Linked DNA regions of Homo sapiens. The protein of the gene in region 1 interacts with the protein of each later gene in a pairwise test. Each region holds a gene or a part of one and is shown on either strand. Other genes may lie near its edges. The genes, in order: HTATIP2, MIEF1 and PLIN2.

The links.
Region 2: the proteins of HTATIP2 (region 1) and MIEF1 interact in binary tests that used the Homo sapiens proteins (3 or more experiments, as listed by UniProt).
Region 3: the proteins of HTATIP2 (region 1) and PLIN2 interact in binary tests that used the Homo sapiens proteins (3 or more experiments, as listed by UniProt).

What each region holds. Positions count from the first base shown.
Region 1 is NC_000011.10:20,373,669-20,377,320, reverse strand, and holds part of HTATIP2 (protein HTATIP2), read right to left. Parts: intron 742-3,652; coding exon 604-741; intron 1-603. UniProt on the Homo sapiens protein: Represses translation by preventing reactivation of elongation factor eEF1A. May also inhibit nuclear import by competing with nuclear import substrates for binding to a subset of nuclear transport receptors.
Region 2 is NC_000022.11:39,508,750-39,512,401, forward strand, and holds part of MIEF1 (mitochondrial dynamics protein MIEF1), read left to right. Parts: intron 1-672; exon of another isoform or gene 673-822; intron 823-2,538; 5' UTR 2,539-2,545; coding exon 2,546-2,689; intron 2,690-3,099; coding exon 3,100-3,277; intron 3,278-3,482; coding exon 3,483-3,652. UniProt on the Homo sapiens protein: Mitochondrial outer membrane protein which regulates mitochondrial fission/fusion dynamics.
Region 3 is NC_000009.12:19,117,406-19,121,057, forward strand, and holds part of PLIN2 (perilipin-2), read right to left. Parts: coding exon 3,475-3,652; intron 2,427-3,474; coding exon 2,245-2,426; intron 1,051-2,244; coding exon 916-1,050; intron 1-915. UniProt on the Homo sapiens protein: Structural component of lipid droplets, which is required for the formation and maintenance of lipid storage droplets.

The DNA.
Region 1 (3,652 bases):
ATTTGAACTCAGGAGTTTGAGACCAGCCTGGGCAACATGGCAAAACCCCATCTCTACCAAAAATACAAAAATTAGCCAGGCATGGTGGCTCATGCCTCTAGTCCCAGTTACTTGGCGGGGCAGAGGCTGCAGCGAGCCAAGATCATGCCACTGCACTCCAGCCTGGGAACCTGTCTCAAAAAAAAAAAAAAGAAAAGAAAGTTGAGTCTGTAACTAGAATACTGCTTCAGGATAGATTTCTCCAAATCTCTACACAAATAAAAGCTCTTCTTTCCGCTCAGTCATTAGGGAGACTGACGGAAAAGTTTAAGAATCACTGCCTCCAAGTCTCTTCCAATGCTAAGCTGCCATGCTGACAGTCAAGGCTGGAGATGCCATATCTCATTCCATTTGTTGCTGGATAATTAATAGAGAGGAAGACATTGGAAATTACCTTTCCAATCATTCCTGTTTACTAAATATATTCCTGCAGTCCCGTAGCCATACAAATGCATAATATGATGCATTTGATGGTTTTTGTATTATATAATATTTTATATTCTTTAGTACTGCCAAATAGCTAGGGTTCTCCAAAGTGTATGAAAAACAGAAACTTGCACAAACCTTAACTTGTAGATATAAAAAATTGCTTGATTTATCAGCTCCTTTAGAGGATAGCAAGTTGAAATGTTTGCACCCTCCAGCTTTTGCCAGCTCTGCAGACTTCAGCACATAATCTCGGTCAACACGAACAAATCCCTCCTAAGGGGGAAAAGGACATGAGTTATTTCCAAAAAGCAGCAAGTTCATCTTAAAGATTACTACTTGGCTTGGGTAGCAGGCTGGGAGGCCTAGAAGGATGGAGATCTAAATAAAATGTGTCCAAGCAATACATGAAAGTCAGGCTTAGACCCTGGGAAAGGCTCCAGGTCTGGTCCTCTGGATAGGCACACCAGCTTTAGCAGCAAGACTGGACTGCAATAAGGAAACAAGGACAATGACATTGAAACACAGACACCAAACAAATCTGCAAAGAACAAAGGGAACAGTAAGATCAGGCTGAGAAACTACTTTTAAGCCAGACTTTTTTTTTTGTCTTAATAACTTCACAACTTTACACTCCTGTTTTCTGTGTCAATTCTAATGTGGTAGGGTCTCCGAGTATGGGTGAGGACACTCCCCAGGCACTAAGAGAACAAAGTCTATTTAATTCCCAATTTTTGTGTATGCTCTACAATGTACCTCACACATTAGTAAAGAATGCATCCTCAAACGTTTTTATTAATGGGTCTCTAGTCAAAAGTGTTTGGAGACACCCAATCTAGATTCAGTCCAGTGAAGGCAGTGGCTGGGTCTTTTTTCTTAATTCATCTCTCAGCATCAGCACATGTCCAGCATATGGTAGATGCTCCAAAAATGAATGAACAAAACGCCAATGAAAGCAGAGAAAAGGTAAATCCAGTCAGAAACAAACAGAACTAAGTGGCAATAAAAGGGGGAGGGAAGAGAATGACACAAATAACAGAATATAGACTCACTTCCAGGGCCTAACTGAAAAGCATGCACCTTTACCCAGAAAAGGGAATTCCAAGGAGTAACAGTCTCTTGAGACCACCATAAATTCTGGCATCTTCAAACCCAAGACAGCTGAAGACAAGTCTAAAGTCTATTGAAGCTGAACTTTATAGGTAGTCACAATTACAGAATGAGGTCTTAGAGTAGTAGGAATTCCAAATCTGAAGACTGGACTACTGCCCCAGTGATTGATTGATTGAGACAGTCTTGCTCTGTTGCCCAGGCTGGAGGGCAGTGGCGTGGTCTCCACTCACCACAACCTCTGCCTCCTGAGTTCAAGTGATTCTCCTGCCTCAGCCTCCCAAGTAGCTGGGATTATAGACACATGTCACCATGTCCGGCTAATTTTTGTATTTTAGTAGAGACAGGGTTTCACCACGTTAGCGAGGCTGGTCTTGAACTCCTGACCTCAGATGACCCGCCCACCTTGGCCTTCCAAAGTGCTGGGATTACAGGTGTGAGCCACCGCGCCCGGCCTGATTTTTTTTTTTAATTAAAAAATTTGCTCCTCAGTAGTTACTGATTCTAAATGTTCTATTTGGTAGGGCGATGTGTATCTTTCACAGAATGTTAGAAGGTACCTTAGGAAATATCACATCCAGTCCCCTCATGATATAGACAGGAACCAAGGTCCAGTGGGCGGGTGAACTGTTAGCTGGGAAGTGGGAGAGCCGAGAGCAGAGTGCAGATTCTGGACTCTGAGCAGTGCTCTTTTCACTGTACCCATGTTCCTTTTTTATCCCCCACCCTCTCTCGCTAATGAAAATGACTAATCCGTGATTGTGGTAGGCAGAATAATGGTCCCTCAAAGATGCCCACGTCCTAATCTTTGTGAATATGTCATGTTACATGACAAGGGGGAATTCCATCACAGATGGTATTTAGGCAGAAGCAAGATGAATCATGCTAAAACAACAACAACAAAAAAACTGAATTTATTTCACCAGTCAACTGTGTCATTTTGTTGTAACAAACACATTATTAAAATCAGAGTTCTAGTGAACTGGCATGAGGGGAAGAAATAGATGTGGAAGGGAAATTCAGTGTTTTAGAAATTCAGTGTTTAGAATTAGGGTGCTAATCAGCTGGCCTTGAAACAGAGAGATTAGTTTGAATTATCCATGTGGGCCCAATGTAATCACAAGGGCCCTTAAAAGTAAAAGAACGAGGCAGAAGAGCAGGCTGGAGTAATGCAACCTAAGAAGGGCTCAGCTACCACATTGCTGGCCTTAAGGATGGTAAGGGGACCACAGGCCAAGGAATGGGGGTGGCCTCTAGAAGCTGAAAAACGTATGGAAATGGTTTCTGTCCTACAGCCTCCCAGAAAGGAATGCAGCTCTGTCAACACCTTGATTTTATCTCAGGTAAACCCGTGTCAGACTTCTAAGATGATAAATTTGTGTTGTCTTAAGCTGCTAAATTTGAGGAATTTATTAAAGCAGCAATAGGAAACTAATACAGAATTCAATTTTAAAACAATACGCCCATGCAGATTTTTTAACTTTGTATGGAAGTGTATCATAAAAGTAAACATAAGTATAGAGCTCAATAAATTTTCATAAACTGAACATGCTCTGCCACCAGTTCCAAGATCAAGAAATAGAACATTACCATTACTGTAAAAGCCTTCCTCATCCTCCTTTCCCATCACTCACAAGTACATTTTTAACTATATCCACCACCTGGAGGACAGTGTTATTTTTCTGCCTTACTTTTTCTACCTTAGTTTGTGGGTAATATAAACTTACCTCTTTACTCACGAGTCATCACCATCTCCTTTTGTATACTTTTTGTTGTATACTTTGACACTCAGTCCTGAACAACGGACTTGCCAAGCTGTCTATATACCGACTCAAATTCATGCAGTTGCTTTTAAAATTAGTGTAAAGCAAACCAATTTAAGTACTCAGCACATCCTGAGAGAAGTGATTACCCTCAGAGCCATTCTCCAAATGGAGACTTTAGATGTGCTGAAAGTGTGCCAAGAGAAACAGCCCAAAACTACATAGAAAAATTCTAAGACACTAAATTTTTCTTCCACATCTGTTTCTTCCCCTCATGCCAGTTTATCAGAACTCTGATTTTAATGACAGGTTAG
Region 2 (3,652 bases), on another chromosome or scaffold:
ATTGACTGTAAATGGTAGAGAAAAGGAAAGTACCCCCAAGGTGTGAACTCTAGTTAGGGAAAAAAATATTTTTGGGCTTGACAGTGACTCTTAGTTAACTCAATTACTGGAATAATAGAGTCAGAAATATTTCTTTGTTTTTCAGGGAGGTAGAGGCAGGAGCGTAAGATGTGGAAGCTAGAAATATCCACTTGTAACACGGTATTAGAAGGAATGTTATTTTACATGGAAGATAATCCTCAGTGATCCTTTTTTTTTTTTCTTCAAGACGGAGTCTTGCTCTGTCACCCAGGCTGGAGTGCAATGGTGATTCTCCTGCCTTGGCCTCCCGAGTAGCTGGGATTACAGGCATGCACCATCATGCCTGGCTAATTTTTTGTATTTTTAGTAGAGATGGGGTTTCACTATGTTGGCCAGGCTGGTCTTGAACTTCCGACCTCGTGATCCACCCACCTTGGCCTCCCAAAGTGCTGGGATTACAGGTGTGAGCCACCGCGCCCGGCTGATCCTGTCTCTTGATGTCCTCCCATTCTGGGACGCTAAATGGTATCCGACTTTGTTTTCCCTTATGTCATTCCTGGTGTGAAGGACACGGGATATTATAGAGGAGAGTGGCAGCATGCTGAGTGGTATTCCGATCTGAATCACACTGTCATCCTTTATCCGGCTCAGGCCCAGGGTTCTAACTCCACAGGAATGGGCTTATCTGGGGACTGCTGCTGCTGCAGTCAGGAAGACTCCACTGTAGTCGGGAGCAGCACTGGCCTGAGCACTGCACTGGAGGCCAGCCTCTTCGCTGTGGTGCCCAAGTACTTCTTTCAGGTGAACACATTTTTAGTTCCTCTTCCAGGTGTAATCGAGCAGATGGGTGTTTTGTTTTCCAGTTAGCAGTCGAGTCTGCAGTGTCCTTTGTGTTTTTTATCTCCCGGTATACCAGTCTCACCTAAGCTTTTATAGTCCCCGCTGCGCACTTCTCTCAAGAAACAAAGCATTTGTCAAGTAGGAGGGTCCATGGAGGGACCTTTCTCACATATGGACGTGTAGTTTCAGTTCCGTGTGCAGGATGTTTGGTACATGTTGTTTTGTGTTTTGTTTGCAGAAAGTAGATAGAATAAGGGCCGATTTGATTTGGGTAAGGGTGAGCATGGTACAGTAGAAAAAGCGTCATACAAGGAGTGGGGAGTCCTGAGTTCTGGAGATGACTGTGTCGTTTTGTTTTCGTTTTTGAGACGGAGTTTAGCTCTTGTTACCCAGGCTAGAGTGCAATCGTGTGATCTCGGCTCACTGCAACCTCCGCCTTCCGGGTTCAAGGGATTCTCCTGTCTCAGCCTCCTGAGAAGCTGGGATTACAGGCATGCGCTGTCACATCTGGCTAATTTTATATTTTTAGTAGTGACGGGGTTTCTCCATGTTGGCCAGGCTTGTCTTGAACTCCTGATCTCAGGTGATCCGCCTGCCTCGGCCTCCCAAAGTGCTGGGATTACAGGCGTGAGTCACCGTGCCCGGCCCATTTTGTTTTTTTATTTTTATTTTTAAGAGATGGGGTCTCACTCTGTCACTGAGGCTAGAGTGCAGTGGCGTGATCATAGCTCACTGTAGCCTCAAACTCCTGGGCTCAAGCATTCCTCCTGCCTCAGCCTCCTAAGTAGATAGGACTACAGGCATGTGCCACCATGCTCAATTTATTTTTATCTTTTACTTTTGGAGATGGGGGTCTTGCCATGTTGCTCAGGTTGGTCTTGAACTTCTGGCCACAAGCGATCTTCCCACCTCAGCCTCCCGGGTAGCTAGGATTATAGGCATGAGCCACTGCGCCTGTACCATTTCTTTTCTCTGAGACCTGACACATCACCTCCCTATGTTGAGAACCTCTGTGTGAGGTGATGTGATGGCATTAGATGAGCTCCAAGGTCCCGCTCAGATCTAACCTTCCACAAAGTAGTGGCCAAAGGACGAAGAAATGACCTGCATTATAACCCCTGTGATGGGGTAGAGAGACCTGCTTTATAACCTCTGTGAAGGGGTAGAGAGACCTGCATTATAACCCCTGTGAAGGGGTAGAGACCTGCATTATAACCCCTGTGAAGGGGTAGAGACCTGCTTTATAACCCCTGTGAAGGGGTAGAGACCTGCATTATAACCCCTGTGAAGGGGTAGAGACCTGCATTATAACATTGTGAAGGGGTAGAGACCTGCATTTTAACATTGTAAAGGGGCAGAGAGAGGGCTGTTTTGCATGGTGGGGTACTTCATTGTAATACAAAAAAGGACTGACACTGAGCTTAATGCTTTCTTAATCTCACTAGCTTGGGGAAAGTTTTCCTACAATACCCAAGATCAGCCCCTCCTCCTTGCATCCTGATCTATCATGGGACATTGTAGCTCCCTCCAGACCCTAAAGCATGCAGTGCTGGAGGCAAGAAGATTTGGGTTGCTGGAACTCACAGAGTACCCTGTACTTGTTGGGGTTTGGCTTGTTAGGGGAGGGAGGTTCTTGGGGTCCCAGTACTTATGGCCGTGTTCTGTCTTCATTCTCAGATGAGCAATGGCAGGCGCTGGTGAGCGCAAAGGCAAGAAGGATGACAATGGCATTGGCACGGCCATTGACTTTGTGCTCTCCAATGCCCGGCTGGTGCTGGGGGTGGGTGGAGCGGCCATGCTGGGCATCGCCACGCTGGCAGTTAAGCGGGTAAGTGCATGCAGCCAGGGCTGGGGGTGGAATGTAGTGGTATGGTCATAAGATGTAATGTTTTATAGAAAGAAAATGTCGAAGCGTTCTAGGAGGAAATGATCGCAATGATAAGTGAAAAAAACAGGTTTCAAAAGTATGTATAGAGTGATCGTCATTACATGCATCTAGAAAGAAACATACCAGATATTACAAACAGTTTTCTCTGGGTCATGACGTGGATTATCTATGTCTTATATCATGTAGTCTTCCCTGAGATTTTCTGCGTGGAGCAAAGTATTCTATAATCTAAAATAAAAACAAAATTACTAAAAGAACTTACTAGGACAGAGCTTCTGGGGAGGAAGTAAATTGGAAGGAAATAGGGAAAGAGGGCAGGTTTATGTCCTGTGTCCTCTCTGCTATTTCAGATGTACGATCGGGCGATCAGTGCCCCTACCAGCCCCACCCGCCTGAGCCATTCGGGGAAAAGGAGCTGGGAAGAACCCAACTGGATGGGCTCCCCACGACTGCTGAACAGGGACATGAAGACGGGCCTGAGCCGGTCCTTGCAGACCCTTCCCACAGACTCCTCCACCTTCGACACAGGTGAGAAGGGCTGCTGCCCCTCCTGGGACCTCTCTGGACTTTCAGTACCACTCCTGCACTCAGCAGATGTTTCCTGAGCACATCTGTGCCAGGCACTGTGCCAGCACTTGCCCTCCATGCCAGGCCCTTCTTTCTGGGGCTGAGGCAGCTGTGGACTGAGCAGGCATGGGCAGAGCTCACGTGCCTCTCTCTCTTGCCTTGGCAGATACATTCTGCCCGCCCCGGCCCAAGCCAGTGGCCAGGAAGGGCCAGGTAGACTTGAAGAAGTCACGACTCCGCATGTCCCTGCAGGAGAAACTTCTTACTTACTACCGGAACCGGGCAGCCATCCCTGCTGGAGAGCAGGCTCGGGCCAAGCAAGCTGCTGTGGACATA
Region 3 (3,652 bases), on another chromosome or scaffold:
GCCTTGGCCTCCCAAAATGCTGAGATTACAGGTGTGAGCCATTGCACCCAGCCAAGATGCTATGCCTTCCCTCTGGAACCTTGGTCACCTTATTGCCCTTTCACCTAGTTTATTCACCCATTAGTTCTCAGCTTACCATTCATCTCTTCCAGAAAGCAATGTGACTCAACTACCCCCACTCCAAGGCTGCCTGAGATAGTCTTCCCATATGTTTTCTTTTTTTTTTTTTTGAGACAGAGTCTTACTCTGTTGCCCAGGCTGGAGTGCAGTAGCATGATCTCGGCTCATGGCAACCTCTGCCTCCCAGGTTCAAGCTATTCTCCTGCCTCAGCTGCCCGAGTAGCTGGGACTACAGGCACGTGCCACCATGCCTGGCTCATTTTTTGTATTTTTAGTAGAGACAGGGTTTCACCATGTTGGCCAGGATGGTCTCGATCTCCTGACCTCGTGATCTACCCGCCTCGGCCTCCCAAAGTGTTGGGATTACAGGCGTGAGCCATCGCGCCCAGCCAATAGTACCTGTATTTATGCCGTTAAACAACAACCGGACTTGGCTACTCTGAGTGTACTGCCTATGAGATAGCCCTCTTCTGCAAGGAGCATTAAAAAGGCACAAAATAGGACAGCATGGCTGGCTGTATCCCCTGTTAGTCTGTACCCATTATGAGGGCAAGGCCTGTGTTTCTCATTTAGTTGTATCTCACTTGGGGCATATGTATACTCATAGGTTGTTAGATAAAATTATTCGCTGCCTAGTTTTGCTTTTCTGCCACATAACTAGCCACCTATGTACATGGTATTGTTCAACCTTTTGATAGAGAAGAGTATTCTAAGACATAGTATGGAAAAATTGAAATGAAAAGTCTGATAAGAACTTCTTCAGCAACCAACAAATGACCGTCCCAGTCATCTTACCTCAGCACAGTGGGACTCATCAGTATCATCATATCCAATGCTCCTTTTCCACTCTACCCATGAGAGGTAGAGCTTATCCTGAGCATCCTGAATTTTCTGATTGGCACTATACACATTCTTCCTGGCAAATTCAATCTAGACACATTGAAACAAGACAAAGGAACACACAAGTCAGATATTCACGTTAGCCTGTTTGCAGATGTATGATGTAAATCAGGCAACATAAAAACTAAGAATTTCCTGGAGTTGAATAAGATCTATTCCTGCTATCATTATTATTTATTATCAATATGTGTAAATTAACCAAGCAGTAGTAGCTCTTTACTGCCTCTATTTAACTATTAAATCACTGACTCCACATTTACTTCCAGTTTAGCACAGGTAAAGCAACTAAAAAACTACAAAAAATTTTTTTTGAGTGTCACTCTGTCACCCAGGCTGAAGTACAGTGGCGCGATCACAGCTCACTGAACCTCCTTCTCGTGCCTTAGCCTACCGAGTAGCTGGGATTACAGGCATACGCCACCATGCCCAGCTAATTTTTGTATTTTTAGTAGAGACAGGATTTCACCTTGTTGGCCAGACTGGTCTCGAACTCCTGACCTCAGGTGATCCAACCACCTTGCCCTCCTAAAGTGCTGGGATTATAGGCATGAGCCACCACGCCCAGCCAGCAACTAAAATTTAATGTGTACATGAGTAAAGGATAAGTTAGCATTACAAAACAGAAAGGAATTTGACCTTCCTCTTCCCTGTTGCCAACCACTATTTCCCCTTCTAAGAAGAAATGGTTTTCTCATGGCAGTACAGAATGGTACATACTGTTCTTTAACTTGGAAACCTTTAATGGCTACACAGTAGTCTATTGTGATATATCAATTTAATTAGTCCTGTTAGTGGATGTGCATTGTTATAGTCTCTTGCAACTTTAAACAAATATACACATCTGTAAGATAAAAAGTAAAACAGCTCCAAGTGTAGGTATGCTTGTAACTTTACTAAAACTGTCTCTTGAATCAGTCCCTTAGAGCAAGAGCTGCACAAGTGTGGTTCTTTCTCTACACCGTTGCCAACAGCCACATTTCCCGTGTGGCAGGACAAGAGAGATGTCAGTATTTGACCCCTCAGAGCGAGATTAGCATTGCTTCCTATATTTCAACTAGTTATACTTCCTTTTTCTGTGAGCTGTCTCCATATTCTTTGTCCAGTTTTCTATTGGGTTGTTTGTCAACTAAGAATGAAATTCTTGGATTTTGTGATTACATTTAATTCTTGGGCCTAGAGATAAATGAACCCACTTCAGACACCTTAAAATAAAGTTTTACTCACCAGGTGAACAGTAGAATGGAGCTGAGAAATGGTCTGTTGGCTTTTTTGCTTAGCTTCTTTAACCCTGCTGAGAGCCTGCTGGTAGGCACGGGAGTGAAGCTTGGTAGACAGGGATCCCAGTCTAACATAATAACTTGGCTTCTGAACCAGATCAAATCCTTCAACTTTTTTTGCTTCTTTTTCTGAAGTTAGAAATAAGAGACAAAAAAACTTAAGGGATCACAGTGACAAGTGATAAGGCCTGGACTCTAACCTGGGTCTTGACTTTCTTACTTCTACCCAATCACTTAGCAATCATGCAGTCATTTTTCCAAGACTGCTCACGTCTGCTGCTGGACTTGACTACCCTGAACATATTACTGTATCTGATACACACTGCATGCATCTACACGTTTCTCCCACTAGAGTAAACTGCTTTTTTTTTTTTGGAAACAGGTCTTGCTTTGTTGCCCAGGCTGGAGTACAGTGGCACAATTTTGGCTCACTGCAGCCTCAACCTCCCGAGCTCAACTGATCCTCTCACCTCAGCCTCCCGAGTAGCTAGGACTCTAGGAACAAGCCACCATGCCCAGCTAATTTTTGTGTTTTTTAGGGTTTCGCCATGTTGCCCAGGCTAATCTCAAACTCCTGAACTCAAGCGATCTGCCTGTCTTAGCCTCCCAAAGTGCTGGGATTGTAGGCATGCATGCACCATTGCTCCCAGCCTAGAGTGAACTTGAGCGGCATGGTACCTGGCACACATTACCTAATGATGATTCTTTGTAAGGAGGATTTTATAAAGCAATCCATTAAAGACTATCCATTTACAGAAAATATTTTTCAAGGCCAATTTTTGCTAAGGTTTCAAAACTTACTACGTACGATTCAATGTGAACTTTATGATTGCTTTAGGAAGGAAAATCTATAGAGGCAAAAAGATTAGTGGTTGCTCACATCTGTAATCCCAGAACTTTGGGAGGTCAAGGCAGGTGGATCGTTTGAGCCCAGGAGTTCGAGATCAGCCTGGGCAACATAGTGAGATCCCATCTCTATAAAATTAAATTAAATTAAAAAGGACTGACTGCAAACAGGCATGAGGATCTTTTGGGGTAGCAGAAGTGTTCTGAAACTGGATTGCAGTGATGCTTGCACAACTGTGTAAATTTAGACTCAAGATGAGAGTATATGTCAATGAAGCTGTTTAAGAAAGATTTAATATAAAACAGTATTTCAAGATAAAATTCCAGTTACCTAGTTCTTCCTCAGTGAGAGGGAGGTACTGTTCTACCAACAGCTCTGATTTGGTGAGTGCATTTTCTACGCCACTGCTCACGAGCTGCATCATCCGACTCCCCAAGACTGTGTTAATGCTGCCACTGACCACAGACTTGGTCTTCTCCACACTGCCAGTCACTGCCCCTTTGGTCTT